Linked DNA regions of Homo sapiens: region 1 is linked to region 2. The links come from fine-mapping of genetic effects on plasma protein levels. A gene starts in region 2. The other region holds a variant in brackets. All regions are shown on one strand. Distances are from middle to middle.

Region 1 (8,338 bases), 22 kb after region 2:
TCCCGGGTTCAAGCGATTCTGTTTCAGCCTCCCTGGTAGCTGGGACTACAGGCATGTGCCACCACGCCTGGCTAATTTTTGTATTTTTAATAGAGATGGGGTTTCACCATGTTGGCCAGGCTGTTCTCGAATTCCTGACCTCAAGTGATCCACCCGCCTCGGCCTCCCAAAGTGCTGGGATTACAGGTGAGAGCTACTGTGCCAGGCCTCCATGGTGGTTTATATGTTGACTATCTGTATTCCCAAATCCTGAGGAAAGGCTTCAAGTCACCAACCCAGACCATTTTAGCTTCAGTTATACCATGAGATATAGTCCTTTTGCATGAAAAAATTACTATCAGGATCACTAACAAAAAGCCTTAAATATCATTACACCCTCTACAAAGATGGCATGCAAATGCTCTCCTCCGGCAAAGAGAACTTCACTAAAGCACTAATTTACTAATGCTGATTTCTTCCAATTTCTAATAGAGGGAAACTAGATGCTTCATTTAATCAAATTATGAACTTTATTCTAGACTTTTTTCCTTTTGTGTTGCCAGGTATAGATTCTGGCTCAGCCACTAGTCTAATTTAGTAATATTATCATTGAAATCAGAATTCTTTAACAGGACATTTGTTTTAAAGGAACAAATATGCTAGAGTTTAGTTTTTACATTCCTTCAGGAAAATTCTGAGACAATACAAACTGAGAATAATCAATAATTTGTTAGAATAATTTTTTTTTAAGACAAGGCCTTGCTCTGTCACCCGGGCTGGAGTGCAGTGGTGTGAACACAGCTCAAACACAGCTCACTACAGCCTTGACCTGCTGGACTCAAGTGATCCTCCCACCTCAGCCTCTTGAGTAGCTGGGACTACAGGCACATGCCACCATGCCCAGCTAATTTTTGTATTTTTTGTAGAGATAGAGTTTTGCCATGTTGCCCAGGCTGGTCTTAAAACTCCTGGGCTCAAGCAATCCATCCTCCTTGGCCTCCCAAAGTGCCAGGATTATAGGCATGAGCCACCACATCTGGCCAGAAAATTTGAAAATATAATGATTGAAAAAGAATAGGGAGAAATTCATTAAAATGTAATACTGAGTTATTTCAACTATAGAAAACATGAATTTGGGCCAGGCGCAGTGGCTCATGCCTGTAATGTCAGCACTTTGGGAGGCTGAGGCGGGCGGATTACTTGAGGTCAGGAGCTTGAGACCAGCCTGGCCAACATGGTGAAACCCCGTCTCTACTAAAAACACAAAAACTAGGCCGGGCGCTTGGCTCACACCTGTAATCCCAGCACTTTGGGAGGCCGAGGCGGGCGGATCACTATGTCAGGAGATTGAGACCATCCTGGCTAACATGGTGAAACACCATCTCTAATAAAAATACAGAAAATCAGCCAGGCGTGGTGTCGGGCACCTGTAGTCCCAGCTACTCAGGAGGCTGAGGCAGGAGAATGGCGTGAACCTGGGAGGTGGATGTTGCAGTGAGCCGAGATTGTGACACTGGTCTCCAGCCTAGGCGACAGAGCGAGACTCCATCTCAAAAAAAAAAAAAATTAGCCAGGTGTGGTGGTGCATGCTTATAGTCCCAGCTACTCAGGAGGCTGAGGCAGAAGAATGGCTTGAACCAGGGAGAAGAAGGTTGCAATGAACTGAGATCGCGCCACTACACTCCAGCTGGGTGACAGAGCAAGACTCCTATCTAAAAAAAAAAAAAAAAAAAAAAAAAGGGCCATGAAATTTGGACCATTAAAAATAGGATGGTGAATATTTTCTTTATGAAAGGCTGTAACTTTTGTTAATATTTAAATTCTTTCCTAAGAAAAGCAAAGGTAAAATAATGATTGCAAAAGAGTTTCAAGATTGCCAAAAACTTTTTAAAAAAATAGTCACATAATATAATTAAAGAAATAATTGTCACATAATTTTATAATTTTTTAGCAATGAACAGTAAAGGTCACATACCTTAAGCATCCAATAATTTTTTTTTTTTTAAGAGACGGGGTCTTGCTCTGTTGCCTGGGCTGGAGTGCAGTGGCATGATCATAGCTCATTGCAGCCTTGACCTCCTGTGCTCAAGCAATCCTTCCATCTAATCCTCCTGAGTAGCTGGGACTACAGGCATGCCACCATGCCTGGCTCATTTTCTTAATTTTTAGTAGAGAAAGAGAGTCTCACTATATTGCCCAGTCTGGTCTTGAACTCCTGGCCTCAAGTGATCCTCCCACCTCAGCCTCCCAAAGTGCTGAGAGTACAGATGTGAGCCACAGCATCCAATAAATATTTGTAGACTGCAGCATGGATGAATGAATGAATGTTAAACAATCTGGAAGAGCAGCATTTGGTAATTAACATAAAAGTTGATAGTAGGCTGGCACAGAGACAGAGACTTAGGCTGGCGGATTGCTTGAGGCCAGGAGTTCGATACCAGCCTGAGCAACATAGTGAGAGGTTGTCTTTACAAAACAAACAAATTAAAAAATCAGCTTGAGGCCGGACGCGGTGGTTCATGCCTGTAATCCCAGCACTTTGGGAGGCCAAGGCAGGCAGATTGCTTGAGGTCAGGAGTTCAAGACCAGCCTGGCCAACAGGGTGAAACCCTGTCTCTACTAAAAATACAAAAATTAGCTGGGCGTGGTGGCAGGTACCTGTAGTCCCAGCTACTCAGGAGGCTGAGGCAGAAGAATCACTTTAACCCAGGAGGCAGAGGCTGCAGTGAGCCAAGACCGAGCCACTGCACTCCAGCCTGGGTGACAGAGGGAGACTCTGTCTCAAAAAAAAAAAAAAAAAAATCAACTTGATACCAAAATAGAGAAGGGCTAAGCAGATGAAAAGATGAATCAAATTGAAATTAATCCCAAAAGGACAACGAGTAAAACTCAGGAAGCTGCAAACAATAAATGAGGGCAAACATGTTCAGCCACGAGCCTTGGCAAGTAAAGGCTTGGGAGCTATTTGCAGAACACTCTTCACGTCCACACAGTCTCCATTACGATTTTCTAGACCAAGTTAAATTATTTTCAGCTTGCTCTTTCAAAGTACTTCAAATTTACGTTTGTGTCATTTTCACAGGGTCTTCACAGATATTATTGCCTCATTTGACGTTCACGAAAATTCTCTAGGGTGTTTATTTTTAGCTCAGTAGAATGAAGGGAAAAACAGGTCTTTGACAGTGAAATGATCTGTCCAAGATCGTAAAGCTGATGAGTCAGCAGAGCTAATACAAGAGCCCAGGTCTCCTGCTTTCAAGACCAATGTTATTTCCCGTATAGTACCAGGTAGATGAGTAGCACCTTTATATCATTCTCAAATGCCATTTATCCCCTAATAGAGCTGTCAATGTTTTATATCCCATGGTCACAGAACACTCACACCAGTGGACAAAATGTATGGAAAGCGATTTGGGAATATTTAAAACAATTTTAGAAATAGGTAGTCCAGGCCGGGTGGCTCACGCCTGTAACCCCAGCATTTTGAGAGGCCAAGGCAGGCGGATCACCTGAGGTCAGGAGTTCAAGACCAGCTTGGCCAACATGGTGAAACC[C/T]CGTCTCTACTAAAAATACAAAAAATTAGCTGGGTGTGGTGATGGGTGCCTGTAATCCCAGTTACTCAGGAGGCTGAGGCAGAAGAATCGCTTCAACCCAGGAGGTGGAGGTTGCAGTGAGCTGAGATCACACCATTGCACTCCAGCCTAGGCAACAAGAGTGAAACTACGTCTCAAAAAAAAAAAAAAGAATGAAAGAAAAGAAATAGGTAGTCCATTCCTGGCATTAATGAAAGGCAATGATTCAAATAAATTAAAGGTTATATGCCCAAAGTTAGCTATTGAAACATTTATGACAGGAAAAGAGAAAGAACAAAAGAACGAAGAAAAATAAATTTTTATCAAAAGACAGAGATAGCTAAGTAAATCATTATTATACTAAGATATTCTGAAAACCAAAAACAGCGTGGAAGATGTTTAAAGTGATTTTATTTCTTAAATTTTTATTTATTTATTAGTTTAATTATTTCAAGATGGAGTTTTGCTCTTGTTGCCCAGGCTGAAGCGCAGTGGCGTGATCTCGGCTCACTGCAACCTCTGCCTCCCAGGGTTCAAGCCATTCTCCTGCCTCAGCCTCCCGAGTAGCTGGGACTACAGGTGCCCGCCACCATGACCGGCTAATTTTTGTATTTTTAGTAGAGACAGGGTCCCACCATGTTGGCCAGGCTGGTCTCAAACTCCTGATCTCAGGTGATCCCACCCACCTCCACCTCCCAAAGTGCTGGGATTACAGGCATGAGCCATGGCACCCGGTCTTAAAGTGATTTTAGCTGGGAAATATGTTTGGAAAGCCTGGGTGGGAACACAGAAATATAAACCTATTTTGTTATGCTTGTGGAGTTTTTAAATAAACTTTCTTTAACCATTGTTATTTAATAGTCTATTAAATAGCTTAAACAACAGACACTTTTATAGTACACATGAACATATTTCAGCCAAAATGTGACCAAACTCATGCACAGATTTGGAAATGGAACTTTTGACAAATGACTGAGGGTTCCTTGAATACACTGGTGTGATGTGTTTGGCTTGCTCATCTGTCTTCAACCCATCTTTCCAACAGTGTCCTGTCATGTCTTCCTCTGGCTCCTAATCCCTTCTTCATCTATTTCTAAAGTTGTGCCTACTATCTTATTTGTTTCCTATCATCCACAGAATTTATCTGAGTCTGGACTTCCAGGGGCATCAAAAAATGCTGCCACATTAAACTGGAGGAGAGAACAGAATGAGATATTAGGTCCTGGTTGTCTCTCAATGACATTAGGGCCTGATAGCTGGCTCCAAAAGAAAAAGAAGCTGACTTTCCCTTTAAGCTACTGAATCTAAAGAACAAAGGTTGAAGCTCCCTTAAATCAATCATTACAGAGGTAGATGGCTTTGTACAAATTAGAGGGTGACCTTGGAAAAGTGTAGAATGGCTGTTGTGCAAGGTTGCAGGGCCCAGGTTGCACTCCCCTACTAACCTCATTTTAATTTTCCCAACAGATCTCCTTTATGAGTGCCCAACCAAAGAACACACATAGATGGATATGGCAAACTCACGATCTTGGAGCAAAATTTTTTACCTTGTTACTTGGCAAATAGGATCAAGTTATAACCAAAAGTACTGCACAGAGGACCTCCCCCACATTCTCTACATGAGAATGAAGAGGCTGTCTTCAGCCCAGAGCAAAGATAACCCTAGATACCTTGATAGCCTAGGCAAATAGCAGCAAAGGTGAAAGAGACACTGTGGAACGTGAAGGTCACCTTGACAACACATCCATATGTATATCCAGAAAACCTGCATGGAAAGCTACTGCAAAGATATGTCTTCTGAGCTCTACTGTTTCTCATTCAAAGGCTGATGTAACCAAGATTTTTATCACGACTTAGGTCATCTTTCATATAATCACTGAAATTTAGTGTCTGCAAAAGCAAGACATTAAATTTGCAAAGCAACAAGTTTAAGGCTCACAATCCAGGCTACACGGGCTCAGTGCTTTCCAGTTTGCATAGAGAGGTGCACAATAGGCCTGAAGGGAGGTGCTGATCACTGGGTCTTCCATGAATGATAGCTCTAAGGCTACCAAGGGATTAAGTGACTGGTTAGAAAAAAACAAAGAATTCCCTCCTTTGAATCCTAGTAATTTATGACTGCTTTTGTTTCTAATTAGAAAAAAAAAAAAGCGGTTCTCAAGAATTTCTGTCGTGATTCTAGCCCCAGAAAAACCCGGAAAGAATAGCTGAAACCATTTAAGGTAGTGTCTGTCCCAGGCCCCTCTGATTCTTCCAGAAGTTGCAATCTCAGGTTGGAGACAAGGAAAGAGGCTACATTCTGAATACTTCTCTGAGAGGAAATTTTTTTTTTTTTTTTTTTTTTTTTGAGACAGAGTCTTGCTCTGTCACCCAGGCTGGAGTACAGCGACTCAATCTAGGCTCGCTGCAACCTCCGCCTCCTGGGTTCAAGTGATTCTCCTGGCTCAGGCTCCTGAGTAGCTGGGACTACAGGCGCATGCCACCAAGTCCAGCTAATTTTTATATTTTTTTTTAGTAGAGAAGAGGTTTCACCATGTTGGCCAAGCTGGTCTCAAATCAAACTCCTGACCTCAAGTGATCTGCCCACCTCAGCCTCCCAAAGAGCTGAGATTACAGGCATGAGCCACTGCTCCCGGTTGGAAAGTTTTTTTTTTTTTTCCCCTGAGTCAGGGTGTCACTCTGTCCCCCAGGCTGGAGTGCAGAGGTGCCATCTCAGCTCACTGCAACCTCCGCCTCCCTGGCTCAAATGATCTTCCAACCTCAGCTTCCTGAGTAGCTGGGACTACAGGCACGTATCACCATGCCTGGCTAATTTTTGTATTTTTTTTTTTTTTTTTTTGTAGATACGGGGTTTCGTCATGTTGACCAGGCTGATCTCGAATTCCTGAGCTCAAGCAATCTTCCCACCTTGGCCTCCCAAAGTGTTGGGATTACAGATGTGAGCCACCCACCCAACCACCAACCAAGAGGAAAGCATTCCTTTTTTTTTGAAACGGAGTTTCACTCTTGTTGCCTAGGCTGGAGTGCAATGTCACGATCTCAGCTCACTGCATCACTGCAACCTCCGCCTCCTGGGTTCAAGCGATTCTCCTGCCTCGGCCTTCCGAGTAGCTGGGATTATAGGCATGCGCCACCACGACCGGCTAATTTTGTATTTTTAGTAGAGATGGGGTTTCTCCATGTTGATCAGGCTGGTCTGGAACTCCCGACCTCAGGTGATCCGCCCGCCTCGGCCTCCCAAAGTGCTGGGATTACAGGCATGAGCCACCATGCCCGGCCCGAGGAAAGCATTCTTAAGGATCCTTGGGAATACCTGGGTGCTAAATGGTACCAGAATCTTCCAATGAAAATTGAGTAAGGACAAGTGGACAGAGGTATACCTCAAGGAATTTATTTCTCCAGAAAATCTTCCAGGAATTTATTTAAATTGTTTTTTCTTGCATAAAGCAGGATGGCACGTTTCAGAATCCTCACCCCTTACCTCAATGCCTACTTTCCCCATCTAACAGGGTTTATGGAATATTTTCAGGGTCCACAGGATCGATCTGGTTTGAATCCATTGTTCATATCTGCTTGTCTTTGACCTACGTAAAAGGCAGTTTCAGATAGTTTATTCTGATATAAAATATCTCCAGTGAGCAAAAGAAAAGCTAAGGAACAAAACTGAAAGCAGGCTCTGTGTGCTAAAGATAATGAGTCTGTGCATTTGTTTTAGAAACACACAAATAGTGGGGGCCGGGTGCAGTGGCTCACGCCTGTAATCCCAGCACTTTGGGAGGCCGAGGTGTGTGGATCACCTGAGGTCAGGAGTTCGAGACCAGCCTGGCCAACATGGTGGAGCCCCACCTCTACTAAAAATACAAAAATTAACTGGGCATGGTGGTGCTCACCTGTAGTCTCAACTACTAGGGAGGCTGAGGTGGGACGATCACTTGAACCTGAGAGGTGGAGGTTGAGTGAGCTGAGATGGCACCACTGCATTCCAGCCTGGGTGACAGAGCAAGACTCTGTCTCAAAGAAAAAAAAAACAACTCAAATAATGGAGAAAATGAGAGACCAGGGAAGAGATGTCAAGAAACAAGCAAGTCAAATGCTGAGGGGAAGAGAGTGGTTCTGACACAGATGAAGGACAATTCCACAGCTAACTGGGACACAGAAGTGGCCTTGGCATTTAAGTGGCATGGAGTCCTTAATGTTTGCTCCTTCAGCTGTGGCTGTGACTGTTAACTCAGCCATGGCTTCTGGCTTTTAATTTTTTTTTAATTTAATGCCATATTTTATGCCATTTTATGTTTCTCTTTCACATGCTGCATCCTTATTTTCCTGATAAGAAACTTTCTGAGGGTAAGTTCCTGTGCCATCTATCTCAGTCTCTCAGCCCAGGGCAAGCCAGGCATGGAAGTAAGTGCTCAGGAAGTATCTATCATATTAAATGGACCAGAAACCCATCACGAGGCTGTGTTGTAAGAGAGCTCAACTGGAAATGCAAACTCCAGGAGGACCAATAATAATAACATCCACCTTTTGGCAGTACCTCCTACGTGCTCTATTCTGTGCTACATATTTCATGCATATATTAGCTCTAAACCAGACAACAACCTTATAGGGGATTTTTTTTTTTTTTGAGACAGAGTTTTGTTCTTGTCACCCAGGCTGGAGTGCGGTGGCACCATCTCTGCTCACTGCAACCTCTGCCTTCCCGGGTTCAAGCGATTATCCTGCCTCAGCCTCCCAAGTAGCTGGGATTACAGGTGCCTGCCACCATGCCCAACTAAGTTTTGTATTTT
Region 2 (8,338 bases):
TTTCATAAATAGTAATGTACCAACTCCATTCATTCAATAGATAATTATTAATCATTTACTCTGATAAGCAATTATAAACATTTAGATAGGAGATATTCTTACAGTGTGGTGGAGGAGACAAACAACTCCAGGATTATGTGATAAATGCAGTGATAGAGGTATACATAGTCTACTATAGCTACTTTTTTTTTCTTAGTAGAGATGAATTCTCACTATGTTGCCCAGGCTAGTCTTGAACACCTGAACTCAAGCGATCCTCCTGCCTCAGCCTCCCAAAGTGCAGGGATTACAGGTGTGGGCCCTCATGCCCAGCCTACTATAGATACTCTCATTCATTCAGTAAATACTTTAGTGACTGCTATATGTCAAGTACCATGCTGGGCCACAGACAATCAACAGGGAACCAATCATGGTCCCTGTTTTGGTTTTTAAAAAAGAGAGAGAGAGAGAGAAACAGAGAGAGAGAGAGAAAACTTACACTCAAACAGAGGATACAGATACATTTATTGTGTGGTTAGCTGATTTATTGTGTGTCATAATAGAGAAAACATGGGCTGCCATGGGAAAACAGAAGATCCATCTAAATCCAATCAGGCTAGGGAGTCATAGGGAGTCAGAAAGGCCTTACTAATGCAGGAACAGAAGACCAAATACCGCAGGTTCTCACTTATAAGTGGGAGCTAAATGATGAGAACACCTGGACACATAGAGGGAAATAACACACTGGGGCCTATCAGAGGGTGGAGGGTCGGAAGAAGGAGAGGATCAGGAAAAAAAAACTAATGAGTACTAGGCTTAATACCTGCCTGCTGAAATAATCCATACAGCAAACACCCATAACACAAGTTTACGTATGTAACAAACTTGCACGTGTCCCTGAACTTAAAAGTTAAAAAAAAAAAAAAAAAAAAAAAGACGGCCGGGCGCTGTGGCTCACGCCTGTAATCCCAGCACTTTGGGAGGCCGAGACGGTCGGATCACGAGGTTAGGAGATCGAGACCATCCTGGCTAACACGGTGAAACCCCGTCTCTACTAAAAATACAAAAAACTAGCCAGGCGTGGTGGCGGGCGCCGGTAGTCCCAGCTACTCAGGAGGCTGAGGCAGGAGAATGGAGTGAACCTGGGAGGCGGAGCTTGCAGTGAGCCGAGATCCCGCCACTGCACTCCAGCCTGGCAGACAGAGTGAGACTCCGTCTCAAAAAAAAAAAAAAAAAAAGATAGACATGAGCTAGATGAAGGGAGAAACATACTCTGTGCAGAGAGCACACATACCAAGGTACAGGGCTACAAGTTAGCAGGCTGTGTACCCCTTAGTCAACTGAGAGAAGTGAAGCTAAAAATGTGGGCAGGAGCCAGAACAAATTGTCTTTTATGCTAAATCCTGGCATCATGTCCTGAATAATCTTTCCCTTTCACACAAAAATAATATTAGCACATAACTTACTATGTGTCAGTCTCTGTTCCAAGTGCCTTACATGTACTGGCTCATTCGTTTCTATATTCCAGAGAAAACCATTTGGTTCAGTGTATTAACTCGTTTAATTCTCACAATAATCCATGAAGTGCATATTATTATTATGCCTTTTCTTAAAGAGGAAACTGAGGGCAAGTTACACAGCTATATTTAAACTCAGGCAGTCTGCCTCTAGAGGCTCAATCTCTCTTTTTTTTTTTTTTTTTTTTTTTTTTTTTTTTTTTTTTTTAGACAGAGTTTTGCTCTTGTTGCCTAGGCTGGAGTGCAATGGCGCGATCTCGGCTCACTGCAACCTCCACCTCCCGGGATCAGGCAATTCTTCTGCCTCAGCCTCCCGAGTAACTGGGATTACAGGCATGTGCCACCATGCCCAGCTAATTTTGTATTTTTAGTAGAGATGGGGTTTCACCATGTTGGTCAGGCTGGTCTCGAACTCCTGATCTCAGGTGATCCAGCCGCCTCGGACTCCCAAAGTGCTGGGATTACAGGTGCGAACCACTGTGCCGGGCCTCAATCATCTTTTTTTAGAGGTGAGGATAGTCTCACTATATTGCCCAGGCTGGTCTCAAAACTCCTGGCCTCAAGCAGTCCTCCCCACTTAGCCTCCTAAGTAGCTGGGATTATAGGTGTGAGCCACCTCATCTGGCACAGAGACCAAACTATTAACCACTCTGCTTCTCATTCATATGTGATACTTCAAATATTTAAAACATTTATTTATTTATTTATTTATTATTTTTTGAGACAGAGTCTCATTCTGTCACCCAGGCTGGAGTGCAGTGGTGCAATCATGGCTCACTACAGTCTTGACCTCTTGGGCTCAAAGCAATCCTCCCACCTTGGCCTTCTAAAGTGCTGGGACTACAGGCATGCACAACCACACCCGGTTAGTTTTTAATTTTTTTTGTAGAGATGGGGCCTTATTATGTTCCCCAGGCTGTAAAACATTAAATTTTTTACAGGTTATTTGGAGGCTATCGATTTGGTACAATATTTCTTTCTGTATGTGCATGTATTTCTTTCTGTATGTTTATCTTTATTCCAGAATCATGCTGAAGGTAGTCTATGCCTTTGCTATTTTCTTTTTCAGGTTTTTCTTTCCTTTTTAAAAATAAATATTGCCTATTCTTCAAGGGAACTTTCATAATAATTTTCTCTTTTTTTTTTTTTTTTTATTTTGAGACCGAGTCTTGCTCTGTTGCCCAGGCTGGAGTGCGGTGGTGCGATCTCAGCTCACTACAACCTCCACGTCCCAGGTTCAAGAGATTCTCCTGCCTCAGCCTCCCAGGTAGCTGGGATTACAGGTGCCCACCACCGTGCCCAGCTAATTGTATTTTTAATAGAGACGGGGTTTCAACATGTTGGCTAGGCTGGTCTCAAACTCCTGACCCCAAGTGATCTGCCTGCCTTGGCCTCCCAAAGTGGTGGGATTATAGCCATGAATCACTGTGCCTGGCCTTTCGTAATAATTTTCTTGAACTAAAATTTGGGATTAGGCCAGGCATGGTGGCTCACACCTATAATCCCAAGCACTTTAGGAGGCCGAGGCAGAAGGGCTGTTTGAGCCCAGGAGTTCAGGACCAGCCTGGGGGACATAGCTAGACCCCACCTCTACCAAAAAATCAAAAATCAGCTGGGCATGGTGGCATGTGCCTGTTGTCCCAGCTACTTGGAGGCTGAGGAGGGAGGATTGCTTAAGCCTGGGAAGTTGAGGCTGCGGTGAGCTGTGATGACACCACTGCACTCCAGCCTAGGCTACAAAGCAAGACTCTTATTAAAAATTAATTAATTAATTAAAAAATTAGAGATTAGAGAATTTTAGTTAAGTTAAATAAATAAAATAAAAAATAAAATTAGAGATTAGAGGATTTTAGTTAAGTTAAATGTATTAAATTGAAAAGTATTTCATTTTTCCATCCACAAAGTGCTATATTTTCTCATTCAAGTCTTCTCTCAAATCTACCAATACATTTTTGCAATTTTCCTAAAATAGGTAACATTTATTAAGATTGTTCTTAGATGCGTTATAATTTTGTGGAGAAGTGTAATTTCTTATTGTGTTTTCTAATTCTTTACTATTGGTATGTAGGAATGCTATATACTTGTATATGTTATTTTTCTTGATATATGAGATTATAAAATTACCACACAAAAACTCTAAAAATAGAAAAGCTATATACCTTATTCAATAATGTTCAAAACATTCAGAAAAGATTTGGGTCAATATGAAAGGCTACACGGAAAATAATGTGATTTTAATCCAGTGTTTACATATGTGTTAGTTACACATTCAAACTCTTGTCACCGATGCATTTTCATCTAATTTTTTCCATAATGAGAGAGAAGGAGACGCGTTGGTGACTGCAATAGGGCCACCTCCCTCAAATTACGTTGCTCTCTATGACCCATCCTCAGTCTCCCAGTTCAAGCTAATCATTGACAGAGCTTTACAATCACAAGCTTTTACTGAAGCTTTGATAAGACAGTCCAGCAGTTGGTGGCAAATGAAGCCAGGCTGTGCGGCAGGATCTCCAGGGAATGAATGGATTTTCTTCAGCACTGATGAAATAACCACACGCTATAGGAATACAATGTCCAACGGGGGATTGCAAAGATCTGTCATCCTGTCAGCACTTATTCTGCTACGAGCTGTTACTGGATTCTCTGGAGATGGAAGAGCTATATGGTCTAAAAATCCTAATTTTACTCCGGTAAATGAAAGTCAGCTGTTTCTCTATGACACTTTCCCTAAAAACTTTTTCTGGGGTATTGGGACTGGAGCATTGCAAGTGGAAGGGAGTTGGAAGAAGGATGGAAAAGGACCTTCTATATGGGATCATTTCATCCACACACACCTTAAAAATGTCAGCAGCACGAATGGTTCCAGTGACAGTTATATTTTTCTGGAAAAAGACTTATCAGCCCTGGATTTTATAGGAGTTTCTTTTTATCAATTTTCAATTTCCTGGCCAAGGCTTTTCCCCGATGGAATAGTAACAGTTGCCAACGCAAAAGGTCTGCAGTACTACAGTACTCTTCTGGACGCTCTAGTGCTTAGAAACATTGAACCTATAGTTACTTTATACCACTGGGATTTGCCTTTGGCACTACAAGAAAAATATGGGGGGTGGAAAAATGATACCATAATAGATATCTTCAATGACTATGCCACATACTGTTTCCAGATGTTTGGGGACCGTGTCAAATATTGGATTACAATTCACAACCCATATCTAGTGGCTTGGCATGGGTATGGGACAGGTATGCATGCCCCTGGAGAGAAGGGAAATTTAGCAGCTGTCTACACTGTGGGACACAACTTGATCAAGGTACTGTACAGCTAGCTTCTTCTTATAGCTTCAGAAAACACTAAGAATTTAAGAATTTACCTTCTGCCTCAGTAATTCTCTTCACTGAAATCAAGGCAACTGATTTTAAGCTAATTCAAAAGATCTATCCTCAAATTTTGCATTTAAGTTAGTGTATGTTTTATTTATCTAAGGTATTTTTAATGTATTAATCCAATTAGTTTTTTCAAAAGTTGCACTTTGAGGCTATTTTTAAATCTACCATTATACACTACAGTGTGAATATATGAGCTTACTTTCATTCTGTGGGAAAACAGTGCTTCATAAATTTAATTGTTGGAACCCTTTTCTGACAACATGCAATCATTTCAGAATTATCTTAAGGCACAACCATTTCAAATATGTATTTGTTGTTAAGTATAGCTAACTTAGCTAATAAGTAAATAAAGTAAGTAAATAAGTAAGCCAAATAAATGTTAGCTAACTCATGCATATTAAATACAGAAATTTAAATATACTTCACTTTTGATTTTATTTGTGTTACATAGCAAAAAAGAGAAGATTAATTGTTATGGGAGCTAAACACATTTCTTCCCATAAGAACTGGGAAGAATGTGCTCTACTAAAGCAATTTTCAAGCAATATATTTCAAAAGCTAGAGATAATGTTGAGAAATGTTAAAATTAGTAAAACAATAGTGAAAATACAAGCAAAATAATAGGTAATAATTACTGAGTACTTATTATGTACCACAGACTACATTAAGTATTTTACATGCATCGTTACAGTTGATCCTCTTAACAGCCTTTTGAACTAGTTTTATTATTCTTCCCATTTAAAAGATGAGGAAACTGAAGCTTAATGAGATTAAATAATTTTCCCAAGGTTAAGGAGTAAAATACAGCTGTTGTGGACATGGATTTTTTAAATGACAACATAATTAACACTAACTGTCTTCATTAAGAATGCTTTGAAAAGAAGACTCAGGAATTTGCAAGAGATTTAGCCTCACATTGAGGCTAATATCTAGAATCGAATTTAACTTTTTGAGTCAAATAGTTTACTTAGGAAAAATAAATTATTCTGCACACCTGTTACATTTTAAAAATGAAAAAACTTTATCAATATAATTTTATAATGTGCTACAAAAAGTAATTTAATTATTAATAATCAAAAGCTAAATATACAGAAGTAGAAAAAAAATACAGCAACATAAAATAATTCCATGTCTAAATTTGTACATACAAAAATATCTGCTATCACTTCTTTTCTTTTTGAACTTTTCTGGATTATTACACATGTGCATTGTACTATGGTTTCAGATACATCTGCCCTTGAGGTAAACAGATTGCATTATGATTTCAAGGTCATTTGCATATCTTTGACTAGAGTTGTATATAGAACATATTAATGTGTGGGTATACTGTGATTTGACAAAATAAGACCTTAAAGGGTAGAAATTGTATAGGTATTTAACAGTTATCAAGATTATGCATACAAAAGTTAGAAAAATATTCCTCTCATTTAGTCCTTTTAATTTTCTTTTTTTTTTTTTTTGAGACAAAGTCTCACTCTGTCACCCAGGCTGGAGTGCAATGGCGCAGTCTTGGCTCACTGCAATCTCCACCTCCCAGGTTCAAGCAATTCTCCTGCCTCAGCCTCTTGAGTAACTGGTACTACAGGCACATGCCACCAGCCCAGTTAATTTTTGTGTTTTTAGTAGAGAGGGGTTTCACTATGTTGGCCAGGCTGGTCTCCAACTCCTGACCTCATGATCCACCTGCCTCAGCCTCCCAAAGTGCTGGGATTACAGGTGTGAGCCACTGCGCTCAGCCAGTCCTTTTAATTTTTAAAACAATTCATGCTCATGTACATTTAAAAATATCAGATTGGGCCGGGCACAGTGCCTCATGCCTGTAATCCCAGCACTTTGGGAGGCCAAGGCAGGTGGATCACAAGATCAGGAGTTTGAGACCAGCCTCGCCAACATAGTGAAACCCTCTCTACTGAAAACACAAAAATTAACTGGGCGTCGTGGCACGTGCCTATAGTCCCAGTTACTCGGGAGGCTGAGGCAGGAGAATCCCTTGAACCCGGGAGGCAGAGGTTACAGTGAGCCGAGATCACGCCACTGCACTCCAGCCTGGGCGAGAGTGAAACTCTGTCTCAAAAAAATAATAAATAAAAAATAAAAATATCACATTGTACCAAAGGATCTAAAGTGAAAAAGTTAAATCCCTCTCCCTCTCTTCACCTGACAATCCCAGGCCAAGGACGCTACTGTTAATAGTTTCTTATACATTCTTTTTAAAGTTTTCTATGCAAATACATGCATGAATATGTTTATTTAACCTTTGTATAAAGAAAAATATTCTAAATTGTTGAAAAGTCATTACCTGGAAAAATGTCAACAATTAGAGTTTTCATGAAAATGTATTTTAAGGATTAAAGCCTTAAAATTGGCTGATAAGAATAAACAGGCAAAAAGCTTTAACAGATATTGCTTCCAAACATAGTTGATAAAATGACATATTTTCAGATGTTTTCATTTTCCTCTAATTTGAGATATTCTCTGCCTTTAACACAAAATTAGCACTTTATGATCGTGAGATAAATTTTATTATTTTAAATGGAGGGATATGTTTTTCAACTATTGTGTTTTCCAAATAATGTTTGTATTGCCTTAAAAGTTCTAAATCACTAGACTAAATAAATGGTGTGAGGGGTCCTTGAAATCAGTCAGAAAGTGAAATACACTGCATGACCCAGTGACGTATAGCACTAAAGAAATCTTGCAATGATTTGGTAGCCTGAGGTGAACTTGTTTTTCCCACTTGTCCCCTCGCTGTCTTGACTTTCACGTAGAAAACATTAATTTGATATTTTACGTTGCAATGAAGTATTTCTTCCTTCTCCTGCCCCCTTGTGACCCAGAAGAAGCATTCTTTAGGAATAGTTTTTAGACCGAAAACATTTATTGAGCTACACAAGCCTAATATAAAACTGAATTCTGGGGGGGTATGGACCCCTTCATTCCCCACTTCTCAGATAGAGAAAAGGTTTCATAGTGGCTATTGGGGTCCTTTTCGTTCCAGAATGATCTGGAAAACTCCATCTCGGTTTGAAATGTTCCCATTTGGAGGAAACCTGAATGGTCCAGAGGGTCCCAAGGCTGACTTGCAATTTAGATTCCACTTTATTGCAGATGTAGGGAGTACCTTAATGCGGGTCTAAGACTCAGGTAAAAATTTTCCATAATCACACCTACTAATGGATGAACCAACTCTAAGTTTTTGTTTTTGTTTTGTTTTGTTTTGAGACGGAGTTTTCGTTCTTGTTGCCCAGCCTGGAGTGCAGTGGCACAATCTTGGCTCACTGCAACCTCCGCCTCCCGGGTTCAAGCGGGAGCCTCAGCCTCCCGAGTCGCTGGGATTACAGGCAAGTGCCACCACGCCTGGGTAATTTTTTGTACTTTTAGTAGAGACGGGGTTTCTCCATGTTGGTCAGGCTGGTCTGGAACTCCCGACCCACAGCGCCCGGCCTCAAAACTAAGGT

Alleles and levels. Positions count from the first base shown, and alleles are read on the strand shown. Strength reflects both the effect of a copy and how common the allele is.
As copies of C replace T in region 1, the plasma level of the protein whose gene starts at base 3,960 in region 2 goes up (moderate association).

What was found. PIP is the chance, under the fine-mapping model, that this variant and not a neighbour inherited with it causes the effect. The UK Biobank Pharma Proteomics Project read protein levels with antibody pairs (Olink). The fine-mapping took linkage between variants from a reference panel, not from the people measured, so its PIPs are less certain.
Region 1: its variant is fine-mapped to the plasma level of the KLB protein (UK Biobank, PIP 0.99).

The regions. Positions count from the first base shown.
Region 1 is chr4:39,424,721-39,433,058 of GRCh38, forward strand. The region is part of intron 1 of KLB (klotho beta); the gene reads left to right. Among named protein-coding and RNA genes, the nearest start is that of MIR5591, 17 kb to the left of the region's middle. The variant C/T (reference allele first, on the strand shown) is at 3,534.
Region 2 is chr4:39,402,971-39,411,308 of GRCh38, forward strand. KLB (klotho beta) reads left to right here and starts at 3,960. Exons shown (of 5, transcript NM_175737.4): 1 at 3,960-4,804. The coding sequence starts at 3,980.